Regions from separate parts of the Homo sapiens genome. Here regions 2, 3 and 4 are each linked to region 1. Evidence: fine-mapped expression QTL. A gene starts in region 1. Each other region holds a variant in brackets. All regions are shown on one strand. Distances are between the middles of the regions.

Region 1 (4,261 bases):
GGTCTGCCAATACAGAAGAATGGTTGAAGTAAGTACTTAAAAACTCAGGGACCTAACGGCACTGCGATAGCACAAGAGCAAGCTGCTGCTGCACTGGGGAGGCTTACAAGACACCTAGGTGAATTTTAGGACACCCAATCCACCACAAAAAAAGCCTGTAAGACACAAAGGCCCCTCACTATAAAAGGGCTACTTTGGTAATCTGAAATTATCACATTAGTCTGCAAAATGTTAGATTTGGACTGAAAACTTGAAAGCTGTTAAAGTTTCCATATGCACCTGTGTAACACTTTTTTAAAGCCAAGTAGGCTTAACACACAGCTTAACACTGATATTAAGAGCACCTTGAGTTAGTAAGCCTAAACCATCAGAGGTTTCTTTAAAGAATCTATAGGAGAAGGAATTCAATTTCTGATAATCAGAACAAAGTTGAATTTTCACTTAGGGTATGGGAATGGTGGGGAAATCAACTGTTATGCAACACTGAAAAAGACTTTCCCCTTTCGTACAGAAAAAGTATCATGACGACTGCTAGAAATGTAAGACAGAAAGTACATCAAACTATATCCCTCAAACTTCGGAGGTTCAGCAGTTCTCAGCAAGCAAGGAAAAATCAAACAAATTTTGCAAATTACTCTTTCAAAAACTGGTCGTGATGAGAGGGATGACAGCCAACAATCTGCAGCCATGCACGAATTTTGTTGTTGTTGTCTTTTACTGGTTTAACAAAACATAAACCAACGCATGAGTTCCAGCTTTAAATTCTGAAATGAGAGAACTGGAAAGCTGCTGCTGTGTGCCTTAATGATCACGTTTTTCTTTTTCCTTTTTAACTTTCCTTTAGAAAACCTCAACAAAGACTAAGCCCAGAAACTTTGACAAAACATAAGCCAAGGCAACATGCGCTGGAGAAGACACGCAATGTAAAAAAACAAAAAACCCCAGTCACAAAATGTCCCAGTAAGTCGGCTTAATAAAAGATTAACTTTGTTCTGCTGAATGCTTCAAAAATCGCGTTTCACAGTATTTTCTAATTACATATGCTTTAAATACAGTATGTATGCTAATAAACGTGGACCTCAAATACATGTGCAATGAAGCAAAGCTGATGTTCCAGATTACATTCTAGCAGTCCCGAAGAAAATGGTAACCTGCAACTGCATGTGCAAAGCTGACAGAGGGAAAAGAGTGGTGAGGCCAGTCGCCCTTCCCTTTCTACCACAGGAAAAGAACAAAGTTCACACTGATTTAACATTGCAGGGGCGCGCCAGAATATCCTGGGGGTTTCCCTCAAACACCCGCTCTTGGAGAGGAAATTGATGCAAGCGCCTCAGTCAACTTCACATCGGGCCCCGCCGCTCCGGGAGTCGGATGTGTCCAAAAAACCGACGCCGCGACACAGGCGGCGTCCTAATCGCAACCCTAGGAAATCAGGGTCGCGGGACCTGGGTCGGTCCTTCTCTGAACGCTGCCCCGGCAAGGCGGGAGACTGGCGTCAATCAGAACCATCCAAAGCGGGACAAGAGGGCACCGAGGCCGGGTGGGGGGGACCCCGCCCGGCCCCTGCGGGAAAGTTGCTTACTGGCCGGGCCCGAGTTTCGCGGCGGCCCCAGAGTGCCCGGCGCCCCTTACCTTCTTGCCGCTGCCGTCGCGAAGCTCCGACTCCAAGAGGCCGGCGCCGCGGGTCCGGGGCAAGGCGGCCGTCTTCTGGCCCTGCGGGAGGCGCGGCCCGCCGGACGACAGCGGCGGTGCCGCGGGGCTAGGCGCGTCCTCGGCCACCAGGCGCTCGGAAATGTGGATGCTCGGGGCACAGCCCATGCTGGCGGCGGCGCCGCGGACACGCTGGCGGGTAGCCGCGATCCGGTCAGCAAACGGCCCACCCGGCGCCTCCGGGCCGCCGCGGGCGCCGTGTCATCGCCGCCTGGGCGGGCGGCGGCGAGCGCGGATCTCGCGTCAGGAAACGCGGCCGCCCCTTTTATCGCGGTGCGGGCGCTGCGGCGGCGGCGGCTGCGGTGGGAAGGGGGCGCTTAGGCGGGTGGCGTGCCGAGGCCGCCCCTCCGAACATGCCCTTCCTGAGGCAGGAGCCGACGGCCGCCTCTCACATCGCCGGGCTCGCCTCGGCCGCGCTTCCGGGGAAATAGGGGGAGGAGATTTGCGCTCTCCTTACCCAGGAGCGGCTGAGTCCACGCCGCGCGAGCCACGCTGCCCTCGCCGAGCTGCGGCACGACCCCCGGGGGAGGCGAGCTCCCGGCCGCGCCCGGCCCCGCTCCCGCCGCCGCCGCCGCCGCCTCCCCGGCTCCAGACTCCGCCTAGATGTGGACACCCACGCCGCTCCGCCCGCTGGGCCGCCGCCTCGCGGAAAAGCCCCCCCAGGCCGAGTGCCGGTGGGGTACAAGGCTAGCCTTAGACGCTCCCGCTGGCCGGGGTTTAGGCGCGGGGTCCGAGGGAAACCCCTCGGAGCGGCCGGGCCACGTCCGCCAGGGTAGGGAGGGGAGCAGCTCGGCTCCAGCGGGGCCTGGGGCCGCACCGTCGAGAAGCGCAGAAACGGCTGCGCGCACCCAGGAGTTGCTGGCGGTACGGCTCCGGCTCCGGCTCCGTGATCCGGGCCGGGTTTTGCCGGCAGCGTGCCGCGCCGAGCCCCCAGCGGTGACCTCCAGCGGGTGCTGGCGTCAATGCAAAGCAGCTGGGGCGCCCGCCACCTCCTCCGGACGCCGCCCGCAACTGAGCATGCGCGGCGACGACAGGCGGGGCGCCCGACTGGGCTACCCAGAGAAGGAAAGAGACTTGCCCAGGGACACACAGCCACCTCCGTCCCGAGGCCACCAGAAGCCCGACCGCCAAATTCGAATTCCGGCTCCGTAACTTAGCGGCTACTTGACCTCGGTGGGGTCACCAAGTGTGAGCCCTGGAGCTGTTACCCAGAAAAGAGGCCGGTGGAAAGACCTCCTTTGGGGGTAGTGAAAGTCAAACTGGGGCGCCGCGCGCCGGGTCCCGGGTGGGTGGGGCCTGGGCGTCCGCGAGAAGCCGCAGCCCACGTGCGCTCCCTCGCAGGCCAAAACCTGGCGCGCCACGCCTCGGATTACACAGGCGCCGGGGCGGCCGCAAAGCTACAGCACCGGGCAGGCTGCAGGCGCCCGTCCTCCTCTCATTTTAACCAAAGTGCTAGTCGGGCGTCCGAGACCCCAAAGGCAGAGCCAGGGGAAGGGGCGTACGCATTGCAGGCCTGGGGCCCATGAGGACCCCGGACACGCACACAGCCACTAGCTTGCTGTGTGAACTGGGCCAGTCACTTAACTTCTTGGTGGCTGGGGCTCCTCCCCCACCAGCTGGAGGGCGGTGTCTCTGGGCGTCCATCACGTATCCTGTAGCGGGCTGCCTCGGACCCCCGCCAGTCTTCCCGCCCTCCCTGGGCTCCCGGTTTGCGGAGACCCTGGCGCGGTGCAGCCGGCTCCTTCCTGTCCTCTCCGACCGTCCACACCTTTCCTAGCGCGGCCCTGGAGCGACCCTGAGAGGCAGCCGCTCCCGCCTTGGCCCGGCTACTGCAAAGACCCGGAGGCGTGCTGCGGGCTGGATTCCCTGCTGTCGCGCTGGGACTGCAGCACAGGTTCAGGTGCCGGGTCCCCGGAGCCTCGATCTCTGGCCCGAGCAGGGTAACCCGAGAGCACGTTACTGGCGAAACTGCCCCGAACCACTGGCACGTGGCTCTATTACCAAGTTTAAGCCCATTAAGCAATATTAATATTTATGCTTCTCTGCCTTATAAAAGTACTACTGGCTTGGTGAAGATGTCTTAAAAAACAAAGGAAAAGATTTTTAAACATCACTCTTTATTCCGCCTAAATCGTATAATTTTTTTCTGCCTTTGCTCTGCAATTTTAAGAGGTCTTTTTTCCAGGTAGAATCTGGAGCTCTTGTAAATAAAGGATACTTCATGGAGAAAATGCTTGGAACCAACAGAGTTCATGGAAGTTTAAAGCGCGACCTCTCCTCCCCGCCCTGCAGAGAAGTACGGCCTTGACGACTCCCGGCGCTGACCTTGCCGCTTCTGGGGCTCCAAGCAGCTCTAGTCCTCTCGGCCCTCCCCTCCTAGGCAGGACCTCGGCGTCCCGCCTCCCTTGTTGGTCCTTGGGCCATGCACTAAATGAAGGAGTTGGGGACTAGGGCTGGGGGATCAGCTGGCCTGAAAAGCCCCGTGTGCACCGCCCCACACCTTGCTGACTGCCCGGACTGCCTTGTGCTGTCCTGAGCTGGTCACTTACCC
Region 2 (4,000 bases), 140 kb before region 1:
ACCTGGCTGGTTGTTGCTTTCTGCATCTAAGAAATCTTTGTCCACTTTCAAGTCATTGAGGATATTCTGGTATGTTTCTCTCTAAAAGCTTTATGGTTTTAGCTGTTGTATGTAGGTCTATGAATTTCTCTATGGTATGAGATAGGAGTTGTGGTTCTTTTTTTTTTTTTTTTTTTTTGCATAGGAATATCCAATTATCCTAACACCACTTACTGCAAAAATTTCACATTAGCCACTGATCATATAAATGTGATCTGTTTCTTGGATTTCTATTCTGTCCCATGGTTGTACTTGTTATCTTTATGCCAGCACCACACTTTCTTGATTATTTTAAGTTTTGAAGCCAAACAGGGCATATCTTCCAACTTTTTAAAGTTTGCTTTGCTTATTCAAGGTCCTTCTCATTTTCATATATAATTTAGAAACAGTCTGTAGACTTCCACAGAAAAAAAACCTGCTGAAATTTTTGAATTGAAACACCAATTTGGGTAGAAGTGAATGTTAACACTGAGCCTTCCAGTATGTGAACATGATATGCCTCACCATTTATTCAAGTGTTCATTAAAATTTTCAGCAATGTTTTATGGTTTTCACTGTAAAGTTCTGGTCATCTCTTATTAAATTTTTTCCTAATTTTAATTTTTAAATTTTATTTCCTACTGTAAATGGGACTGGGCTTTTGGTTTCATTTTCCAATTGTTGGTTGCTAGTACATAAAATACAACTCACTTTTGTATATTGAGCTGTGTCCTATGACATTGGTAAATCAAATCCACTTATTAGTGCTAATAATTGTTTGTATATTCCTTAGAATTTTCTGCATAAAATCATGTCATCTGCAAACAGAAGCAAATGTATGTCTTACTTTTTGTTCTTTAAACCTCTCTCTCCTTTGTCTATTGCAATGATGAGGAACACCAATACAAGGTTGAACAGAAGAGGTAAGAATGGGCACCCTTACCTTGTTTCCAATCTTAAGAATGTATTCAATATCTCATGCCATTAAATATAATGTTAGCTGTATGTTTTCTTTGAGACAGGGTCTCACTTTGTCGCTCAGGTTGGAGTGCAGTGACATGATCATGGCTCACTGCAGCCTCAACCTCCTGGGCTTCAAGCGATCCTCCTGCCTCAGCCTCCCAAGTAGCTTGGGACTACAGGAGTGCATCACTATGCCCGGCTAACTTTTAATTTTTTTGTAGAGACAAGGTCTCACCATGTTGCCCAGGCTGCTCTTAAGACTCCTGGGCTCAAGTGATCCTCCCAAAGCTAACAGCACTTTAAAGATGTTCCCGTGTCTTCTGGCCTTCATAGTTTTTGATGGGAAGTCAGAGGACATGAGAATCACTGTTTTCTTATAAGTAATGTGTCGCTTTTCCTCTGGCTGATTGCAAGATTTATCTTTAGCCTGTTAGCTGCTTGACTATGACACATCTGACATGGGCTAAGGTTCACTGGGCTTCTTGAATCTGTATGCATATGCATGTGCATATGCCCTCCACCAAATCTGGAAAAATCTTAGCCAGTATATTTCCTAATATTTTTTTCTGCCCCAAGAGA[G/A]GTTTTTTCTACTCAGAAAGAATATGAAGACCAGATGACTCCTTAAAAGTACTTTCAGGAAAAAAATCATCAACCCAGGATGCTATATCTAACAAAAATATCCTGCAAGAATAAAGGGAAAATAAAATATTCTTAAGAAAAAAAAAATTTGTTACCAGTTACCATTTGTTACCTTGCAAAACAAGGACAGAATTTTTTTAGAACCCTATTTCCTAGTGTTAAGTCCATTATCTCGTATGATTTTATGGGTTTTAACTCTCTCTCTCTCTAGAAACTTAAAAGAGGCAGCAACTTACCTGAGAAAAATATTCTTCCGAAATGCGTGCAGCCCACTCGATGCAGTACTGCAGGGGTCGGCAGGGATTGGACACATCAGCACATTTAATCAGCATTCGTTTGATTAGGGTCCGGTTCTCTGGAGTCCTAAGCATAGTGTTTATCACTTCCTGGTTTTTATCAGTTTCCTGAAACATGAGTGGAATTCAAAGCAATCAAAATGGATCCCTTGGTGCCAAGCCCTCTCTTACTGGTCTGTCCCACTGTAAGCATAAAAAGAGCACTAGTCAGGATCTATAAGGATCTCACAAAACAGTGCCAAGGATACTGTGAGCATTGAGCTTGGCCTCTCATTTTACCCAGGAGAAAACCGAGGCTCAGTGAGATTGCAACAGGACCTAGAAGTGGAGGGTAGCACTAGGGGTTGGTATATCTGCCCTTCCCCTTTTCCTTGCCTCTTTCTTCTCTTCCTCTCACTAAATCTTTCTCACAGTTGCCTTTTTTTCTGTTCCACTCTCTCTCTCCCCCTTGGTAAGAACTCAAAGACTGGTTTTGTCTTTTATTATATTTATTAAAAAAGAGTATGAGCTGAAAAAAATAAATTTCTCTGCCCTCACAACAAATGGGCTCTTGCAGCCCAACAGCCTCCGTACTTCTCAACCCAGTCCTGTGATAGGGCAGATTCCCAAGATAACACCTAACATATTTGATGGATAAAGGACTTAACAGTCATTCTCTGTTGATCTGCACTCACAAGAAGATCTAATGGTAAGCATGAAAAGTATTATTTATTACATTTTACAAATGAGGACACTGAGACTCAGGGAGGTGAAGTGACTTGTCCAAAGCAACCAGCCGAGCCAGGATAAGAACTTCAGTTCTGCCTTTAGTCCCAGCATGCCTTCCACTCACAGTACCACATGCTGTCTGCATCCAAGGATCCCCACTGGATATGGATCAATTTATGATGTAATAGAACCACTATTTGTAGGCTCTCTGAAGAGAATTCAGGTTAGAGGGTATTGGGGCAGAGAGCAATGAAAAAGACTAAAGGCAAGCAGGTCTCCTCAGTCTGATTCTGTGCCCATCAAGCAACATTCCAAAGGAGTTAGTCATATATTTCAATATGCAATAGCAGTAGCCTAAGAAGCCCTGATGGTCCCAGCTCAGAGGGAACAGACTGCCATCAAGATGGACGGGTGGCATCCTGACTCTAGGCTTCCCACACTTCCTGGAGAGTGCCAAAATGAATACTACACCGGTGACACTTCAGTAGCTCTCCTCACTCCAGGTTTCCACTGTGACCAGCTCTGTGCTGACCCTTCTTTCTTCAGATCCGTTAATACCTGCAGTGTGACTATAGTTTCATACTGCCAGCCTGGAAACTATTCTCTTTCATCTTCCTTTCTCCTGCTCTGACCCACTGGATATTGATTTTCAGTCTCTCAGAAGTAACCCCATGTACCGACAACAGAGATGAGAACCATAATGTTAAGTGGAGCAGAGAACTCAGCTCTAGGGGCTGTCCAGACTAGACAGAGGAAACCAAGTCTGCTGGGTGTATGGTTTCCTTCTGTGGCATGAGGTCAGCCAGGAGTGGTGGCCAGGTGACAATGAGCCCTATCCAGAATGGCAGGGCAGGAGCCAATAAAACAGGCTGGTACAGGCACCTCTGTTAAAAGTCTTTGGAAAGAGAGTGAAGTCAGGGGCAGGCTGACAAATTGAGAGAACAGGAAAGGGTGAAGAAACAGTTCTCAACATCAGGTTAAACCAAAGTAAGTGTCATGGGGTAATATGCTAGAAAACCAGGGGGCAGACAAAGGCCATGGCCAAACAAATGAATTGCAGAAGTAAAATGGAGTTAGAAGTCAAGGAATTATGATCCTAGCCTGCGAGGATAAGTCATCCCTGTGTGTGGCAAATATCTCAGGATGGTGATAGGAGCTGGGGAGGAGGGTGGGAGAGAAGACTGTGAGCTGCTGCCAACATGTTCAGTAAATGTGGGCCTCAAAGGAAGAGGTTCATGAAAGAACATATTCTTTAAGTTGCTGATGACACAATGAATCTAGTATAATAGGCACCAGTTCTTAAGTGCCTACCATGTACCATGCTCATCAGTCCTATGCCTTGAGACTTCTTATCCCCATTCTACAGATAAGCAAAT
Region 3 (4,000 bases), 86 kb before region 1:
GGGGGTGGGGAGCCTGGAAAGATTTCTTGAACAGTCCAAAGTGGGCGGGCATCCTTAAAGGGATGATCTTAAGGGAGATAAGCCAGGTAAGGGCCAGAATGAAGACAAAACTGATTAGGAAAATAAATCAGGGTCTGCTCTTGCCTCTAGAAAACTCACTACGATTAGCACAAGGACCCATCCCTACCCCAAATCCTCACCCAACAAGATGGAGATGACGTGGTAGAAAACAGCTTGTGAGAAACACTTGAGATTCTTGACCAAGGCTGTGATGTGGCCATCAGGAAATAAATGTGATCGGGGATTACATTTGTAAAGGCCTGCTCTCTCTGGCTAGCACAGTGGAGGGGACTGTTCTGCTTACTTGTCACTGGTTCCCCTAAACCTAGTGTGAGCTTTTCGGTTCTGGAGCCATGCTTACAAGGTCTATCAATCAGAAAAGGGTACTCAGGGGAAGCACCCTTGATGTGGTGGGAATATGAAACCAGGATCTGTTAGGAGCCACTCATAGCAGTAAGGGTGTGCTCAGTTCAGAAAAGGAAAGATGTCTGGGGTGGGGGGACACAATTCCTGTCCTCCAGTGTTGGAAGTCCATTCTGGGGAAGAGGAATAATAGCTCTGTTCTAGCAATCCTGTGCGCCAACTGTGGACAAAGTTGGGTTCAATATAAAGCAAAGCTTCTAAATCTCAGGGTTTCACTTAGTGAGCCCCAGGTCCTGAGGAGAGGCTGGATGGAGAGTGCTAGGCACTTCATAGAGGAGAGGCACATCTGACATTCTCTGCTTCTCTAAAACCATATATTAAAGCAATCCAGTTCCCATTCTTTACTTTAAAACTATATAAAATTGTTATTTACATGACGAAAGAACTCTGATTAACTATAGTGCTTATGGAATTTGGTATTTGTGTGAGTTTTTAACTGAGCACGTAACATTACTTTTTTTCATTGAAATATTTCAGCTCCTCTAGTCTATAAGCTCATAGAAGACAAGAACTTCATTTTATAACTTTCAGTCTAAAACATTCTCTTGTACATAGCTCAATAAAAATCTGCTGAATGAATTAACCCTATTTGTTTAGAATATTCCTAAAATGTACAGCAATAGTACATTTTCTTCCCTTAAAAAGTGGAACATAAAGTTAATGTTATGTTTCTTTTACCACAATTTTTAACAGTGGAGCGTAACCAACACAATTTAAATTTTCTTTTACAATACAAGATGCTCTAGTAGTCACCTTTAAAAGTATGAACTTTCATTGCCTAGCACATACCTGTGGCTAGGCTTGGGCCTGGACAAGACTAGGAAAGAGGCCAAATTTTCTCCAGCCCCTCACCCTGTCCTCCCTCTTCTATCTCGGCAGCCATTTGGCCCACCTTAGACACCTCTACTGCCTTGCAACATTCCACCATGACTACCAAGCACCATGTAATTTAGATATCATCTTCCCTTCCTCTGAGTGGTATCTATTCAATGTTAGGGATAAAAGGGATACTGGAAACCAAGTGTTCCAAATTTACAGCTGAGCTAAAACATCCCCAGAGAAGGCAGAGTTACCCAGAGACAAGCAGCTATCCAGGAAGAGCCAAA[C/A]AAGGACCTGGACCTCCCTTTTTCCTGGCCGGAGCTCTCTCCATTTCTTTTGGGCTGCAATCCCCCATGAATGTGCTGGGTGACTGGCCAAATGACATGTCAAGAAATCTGGGGTAGGGCGGGCACAGTGCGGTGGCTCACACCTGTAATCCCAGCACTTTGGGAGGCTGAGGCAGATGGATCACTTGGGGTCAGGAGTTCAAGACCAGCCTGGCCAATATGGTCAAACACCGTCTCTATTAAAAATACAAAATTAGCCAGGCATGGTGGTGTGCGCCTGTAATCCCAGCTACTTGGGAGGCTGAGGCAGGAGAATCCCTTGAACCCTGGAGGTGGAGGTTGCAGTGAGCTGAGATCGAGCCTTGCACTCCAGACTGGGTTACAGAGTGAGACTCCGTCACAAGAAAAAAAAAAAGAAATCTGGGCTACAATGATGATGGCTTATTGTGAAGTCATGCAGATTGAAACAGATGAGGAACACAGGCACATTTCAGGCACTAGATCAAGGCCACAGGAGAAACTACTGGAGGCAAGTCATGGAAGGGTAAACGCTACCTAGTCTGACTACCAGGAGTGTAGAGTTCTCAACACCAAGGAAACAAACCCATGTTGACGTCACCACATACCCCATAAATAATCTTTTAATATGTTGTCATTTGCTTGTCACCTCGGTTTTTAACCCATGGGTTTTTAATCTACTTAGCTTATATCTTTTCTCTCTCTTAAAAGTCAAGATTTTAAATGTCCTTAAAATTAATATGTCATAAAATTTTATATTTGCCTTGCTTCCATCAGCAACAAATAACTTTCTTTAAAAGGCATTTTTTAGGTTTAGGTCACTACAGAGAATTCTCTCATAATATTGACAAGGTGCAAGTATAATAAATAAAGCCCATTCATCGAACATTAAAAGACAATTTTCAAAATTTTTAAAACTTTGAAAACAATCTGAAAAATTATAATTCTTACTGCACTAATATACAAGTGATACTTGTGGTTAATTACATTTTGGGTTTCACTTTGACCCTTAATAATTCTTATTATTCACATTTTCTTACTGTTTCAAGTAAAGTGAAGCAAGACAAAACAAAAGAGATATGCATCAGTCCTATAAATAGTGAGGTTCTAATATTTTGTTTATTTCACATGCATGGAAAGCAACTTAAAAGAGAGTGAGTCTAATTTAATCTATTTCTAGGCTGCATGTATTGTCAGAAAGGCCAATGGGACTATTTAGGCCCGAGTCTTGGGCTTACCTGCACAGTGCCTCTGCATCCAGCTGTCGAGGATTTCTGTGGTCTATGATGATAATGTCATGATGTTTGTCCAGGAAACAGGCAAGGACAGCCTGAGCCTCCTTGGTAACTGTACACTTAAACCCTGCTTTTTCACATGCCCTGCAGAATCCATTACATTGGTTATCTTCTTTGGTAAACACTAAAAGTACCTGAATCAAAAGAGCACAAACACTTTTTTTAAAAAAAGATGTTAGAATTGTCATTTCTTACACTTTTTTTTTCTTGAGACAGAGTCTTGCTCTGTTGCTCAGGCTGGAGTGTAATGGCATGATCTTGGCTCACTGCAACCTCTGCCTCCCAGGTTCAAGTGATTCTCCCACCTCAGCCCTGCCGAGTAGTTGGGCCACAGGCACATGCCACCATGCCCAGCTAATTTTTGTATTTTTAGTAGAGACGGGGTTTTGCCATGTTGGCCAGGCTGATTTCGAACTCCTGGCTTCAAGTAATCCTCCCACCTCAGCCTCCCAAAGTGTTGGGATTACAGGCGTGAGCCACCGCGCCTGGTCAGAATCGTCATTTCTGTGTGTGTGTGTGTGTGTGTGTGTGTGTGTGTGTGTGTGTGTGTGTGTGTGTGTGTGTTTTGGGGGGATGGTGGGTGGGCAACAGGGTCTTCCTCTGTTGCATGGGCTGGTGTACAGTGGTGTGATGTCAGCTCACTGCAACCTCCACCTCCAGGGTTCCAGTGTTCTTGTACCTCAGAGCCCCCAGTGGCTGGGAGATTACAGGTGTGCGCCACCACATGCCCGGCTAATTTTTGTATTTTCAGTAGAGATGGGGTCCCTCCATGTTGCCCAGGCTAGTCTAGAACTCCTGGACTCAAGTGATCCACCTGCTGTGGCCTCCCAAAGTGCTGGGATTGCAGGTGTGAGCCACTGCACCTGGCCATATGCCTACTTTTTTGCTAAGAAACCCACTGGCAGAACTCAACAAAGATTTAGTTAAGCATTTTATCTTGAAACTAAAAGAATTAAAACACATTAATATTTATTTTAGCTGAAAGAAAGTTAACTGGGTAAGTTCTCAGATGGTGAATGCTAATATCTTGGTGAAATTATTAGAATACTTAATCCTATAAATAATGTATTGAAATGTTTGACTCAAGATTTTATGTAA
Region 4 (4,000 bases), 120 kb before region 1:
GTGTTCATTCCTTCAAATTTCCCCTCTTCTCAACCACATGGAGCTGGAAATGTGTCTCCTTCCTCTGAGCTTCATGATGAGTAATGTCCACATAGCCACCTGATGAGCCTGGACTGAGAACTTATGATTATTTGTTCCTTCATTCTTCTCTCTTTTATTCCACTCAACAAACCTTCACCCACCATGTGTGATGCCCTAAGCTAGGCATTAGGGAGGTGAAAATGAATGAGGTATAGTCCATGAACTCGAAAGGAGATGGTCAGTGGGGAAAAGGGTGGGTAAACTAGGAGTTACAGTAATAATTCTGAAGTTCAGGAGGAGCCTGGAGGGGGAAGTGGCAGATTCTCAAGGGAGTGGGGGCAGAAAGGAGATGGATGGAGTCTTGTAGCTGCAGCCAAGATGAGGAGGAGGACGACAGCATTTCCAGGAGGAGGAAACTGCTTGTGCAGATGGAGCAGTGTGGCTGGAGAGGAGCAAGCAGCAGAGGGTGTATGAAGGACGCACTGTGAAAAGTGGAGGGAGACTAACCAGGCTTTAATTTCTACTTGACTGTTTCAAAGTTACTTTATGTAAATACAAGATCCTCTTGTTCCCAAAAGCCCTGCTAAGCTCACTGCTCCCCTAGTCCCTGTAGCACGTTATAGATGATTCTAGCAATTTTCGCCCAGTGGGTAGAGATGGACCACGTCTCCACCCTGTCACCCCAGCACCCAGCTCTCAGAAGCTCTCCTCAGGGAACACCAAGAGGTTGAAGATGAAGTGTGAGGCTTACATCCCAATGAGACTACCAGCTCCTGAAGGCGTGCTGCGCCCAGGGCCTCATGCTTACTGGGTGCTCAGAAAACACATACTCATCCTGAGGTATCCGGCCTGCCAGTGGAGAGAACACTAACTAGGCCTCCATAGCCAGGGCTTGGGCTCAGGATCACCTGCAACTTCATGTCTCTGCTCTTGGCTTCCTGTTCTGTAAAATAGGGTCCATAAACTCTGCCCACCCTTTCAATACAGAAAAATTAATAGCATTTCCTTGACCTGCTGGGTAAATCCAGGAAACCCTGGAAAAACAGTGGGGGTGATGAGAGAGGATAACCAATCAGTACCCCTCAAAAACAGCAGCTTCCTCCAACTCGCATTAGCCCTGCAGCCTGGAAGTATGAGTTCCAGTTTGGATATGAGGAAGTCCAGACCCCAGTATTTTATGTGACTTGCCCAAAAGTCATTCTGCCGGGACCACAGCTGACTGTCGGAACATCTCCTCAGGCACTATCAACAAGCATTTGCAGAGCACTTACTCTGCAACAGGGCCACCTCCAAACTGCCAAGCCCACAGGACTCTCTGCACATGGGCCTCTGGTAACTACCTCTTCCTCCCAAGAAAGCTCACTTTCTCCAGGCACAGACCAAATCTCCCAACTCTTTTCAATCATCTATGAGGCCTCTAACAATGGCCCCAACCCTGGTAGCCCATGAGAACACCTGCAAAGTATGAGGCCTGGGTTCCATTCCATACCACCTGAACAAGAACCAGAGCCTGTCACATTACTGGCAAGGCATGTCCTGACCACCTCCTCATCCCCTGCATGCCCAATCCCCTGGCTTTATTCTTCTCCACAGAACTTAGCACCATCTGATATACTGTATGTTTATTTGCTTACTGTTTACCTCACCCCCAGATAGAAACATATCTTGCAAGCAGAGACACAACTGCACTGAGTTTGGATGAATGATGAATGAATGAATTCATCCTGCTCCTCAGTGCTCCCCTGGCCATTATTCACGTCTATTATTGCTGGACTCCTTTCTTGGTACTCAGTCTTCCTGCCTCACTTTCTCTCTTCAGAATAGTTGGCCCAGGGCCAAAAGTTTTGGCTTATCACTTCAGATGTGGTAAGTTCAAATCTAAACTTACTATCCACTCCCTGTACAAACCTGCTCTTTCTTACGATCTTATTTGCACTTGTTATTTTAACTAATGTTATCCAGTGGCCAAGCTAGATATCTTGGTGTCATTCTGAAGTCTTCTCTTTATCCCACACAGTAAGCTGGTTCCCAAATCCTACTGATTATACTTAAGTAACTCCTGAATCCAGTCTCTGATTGGGCTCCTGAGGCTGGATTCAGGAGTTACTTTGTCTTCAATCTCTTTTCTCCATGACTGTCTTCCTAAGACCTGACCCTTTCCCATTTACCTATTTATAAAGATTCCCTTGGTCTTCCTCTGCCTACAGGATGAATCCAAACTGGCCTGCCCCAGCCTCGCTTCGCGATGCCTTTATGGGTGCTGCTTCTCCCATCTTGTCCTCTGCATGACCCCTACTTCTCTTCAGACACCAGGTCAACCATCATCATCATCATTGCTGGGAAGCATTCCCCAGCTTTTCTCCAGTGTGGTACTACAAACCACAGCATATTCAAATTATTTTCTCCTGCCACCAGACAGCGAAACTCATGTTCATTTCTGTATGCTTACAGTCAGGCTCAGGGCC[T/G]GACCTAGAACAAGTCAATAGACTGGACAGTTGTCACTACAATTTGGTGTCCTCAGTGAGACAGTGTCACGTGAAAACAACACATGGGCCAGGGAAAAGGGAGCATGTATTGGGATTTTATTACTCTTTTGGATGCCCAGACCCTGAACCTTCCTTCCCATGTCTGGGAGTACTAAGTCCTCTCAGTAGGGGAGGGAGAAGGCCAGAGACTCCACTGCTCCATACCCAGTTAGTGACAGAGTAGGTGACACAGGCCCAGACAAATGAGTGCTTCCTTCCAAGAGTCTGCTTTTGAGTGAGGTAAGGAAGCGAGGTGTGAAGAAGCTATGCTACCCGTGGTGAGAACAGCAACACCCTATAACCAGATCTCAACAGGGCCAGTGGTGCTCAAAGCTCAGTAGTGACAGCAGTGGCCCCCTAAGCACAGTGCTCCTATGGCATGCCTACGGCAGTGGGGACAATTGCTCAGCTTCCCCAGGTTCTTGCTTCCTTTTCCAAAACTAGTTCTAGAGCTTTGTTGTCCAATCTATAAGCAACCCTATTTCCTTCCAGAAAAAACTCCTTTTCTGCTGAAGAATTGATTTCTGTTGTGTATAACCAAGGACTTTGGCTGGCCCATGGCCTATAACAGCTCCACCCTGCCTTCTCAAGTGAAGATGGCCAGTTGAGACCTTTGGACATAAAGGTGGTTATGCTGCTAAGGGGGTAGGTAGGATGGGCAAGTGGCTCACCTGGGTGGGATGGGTAAAACTCCTAAGTCAACGGTGACCAAGTAAAACGACCAAATGCCCTGGTACAAATGCAGTTTGGGAGATGCTCCCCCTGCCGAACATTTCCTCTGACTGCATCACTGACTCTGCCTCTCAGTCCCAGCTCTGCCATATCCCGGCTGCCCAACTCTAGGCTGTCTTTCAACTTTTTTCTTTTTTTAGACAGAGTCTTGCTGTCGCCCAGGCTGGAGTGCAGTGGCGCGATCTCAGCTCACTGCAGCCTCTGCCTCCTAGGTTCAAGCAATTCTCGTGCCTCAGCCTCCCCTGTAGCTGGGACTACTGGCGCGTGTCACCACACCCGGCTAATTTTTTGTATGTTTGGTACAGACAGGTTTTCACCATGTTGCCTAGGCTGGTCTCAAACTCCTGGGCTCAAGCGATCCACCTGCCTTGGCCTCCCAAAGTGCTAGGATTAGAGGTGTGAGCCACCACACCTGGCTCATTGAACTTTTCTGAGCCTCAGTTTCTTCCTCTGTAATAAAGGAATATAAATAATAGTCATACCTACTTTACAGTGGTATTCTTTTTTTTTTTTTTTTGAGATGGAGTTTCACTCTTGTAGCCCAGGCTGGAGTACAATGGCGCGATCTCGGCTCACCACAACCTCAGCCTCCCGGGTTCAAGTGATTCTCCTGCCTCAGCCTCCTGAGTAGCTGGGATGACAGGCATGCGCCACGACGCCTGGCTAATTTTGTATTTTTAGTAGAGACGAGGTTTCTCCATGTTGGTCAGGCTGCTCTCAAC

Alleles and levels. Positions count from the first base shown, and alleles are read on the strand shown. Sizes are in standard deviations (SD) of each study's normalised expression. Not every link is listed here.
For the expression in fibroblasts of the gene that starts at base 2,125 in region 1, C is the high allele of the variant in region 3 and A is the other (small effect, 0.22 SD a copy in GTEx).
For the expression in memory regulatory T cells of the gene that starts at base 2,125 in region 1, T is the low allele of the variant in region 4 and G is the other (large effect, 0.76 SD a copy in Schmiedel 2018).

Evidence for each region. PIP is the estimated chance that this variant, and not a neighbour inherited with it, causes the effect. A credible set is the group of variants that fine-mapping cannot tell apart.
Region 2: its variant is the best candidate, but not a certain one, in a credible set for the expression of PDE8A in whole blood (INTERVAL, PIP 0.83).
Region 3: its variant is the best candidate, but not a certain one, in a credible set for the expression of PDE8A in fibroblasts (GTEx, PIP 0.81).
Region 4: its variant is the best candidate, but not a certain one, in a credible set for the expression of PDE8A in memory regulatory T cells (Schmiedel 2018, PIP 0.77).

Annotation. Positions count from the first base shown.
Region 1 is chr15:84,979,720-84,983,980 of GRCh38, reverse strand. It overlaps PDE8A (phosphodiesterase 8A), which reads right to left and starts at 2,125. Exons shown (of 22, transcript NM_002605.3): 1 at 1,633-2,125. The coding sequence starts at 1,818. RefSeq lists enhancers at 1,944-2,476, 3,626-4,125, 4,126-4,261 and silencers at 2,204-2,693, 3,014-3,063, 3,624-3,673.
Region 2 is chr15:85,124,231-85,128,230 of GRCh38, reverse strand. It overlaps PDE8A (phosphodiesterase 8A), which reads right to left. Exons shown (of 22, transcript NM_002605.3): 20 at 1,857-2,024. Among named protein-coding and RNA genes, the nearest start is that of PDE8A, 140 kb to the right of the region's middle. RefSeq lists an enhancer at 2,651-3,201. The variant G/A (reference allele first, on the strand shown) is at 1,561.
Region 3 is chr15:85,066,050-85,070,049 of GRCh38, reverse strand. PDE8A (phosphodiesterase 8A) reads right to left here. Exons shown (of 22, transcript NM_002605.3): 3 at 2,846-3,036. Among named protein-coding and RNA genes, the nearest start is that of PDE8A, 86 kb to the right of the region's middle. The variant C/A (reference allele first, on the strand shown) is at 1,590.
Region 4 is chr15:85,102,635-85,106,634 of GRCh38, reverse strand. All of the region lies in intron 11 of PDE8A (phosphodiesterase 8A), which reads right to left. Among named protein-coding and RNA genes, the nearest start is that of PDE8A, 120 kb to the right of the region's middle. The variant T/G (reference allele first, on the strand shown) is at 2,487.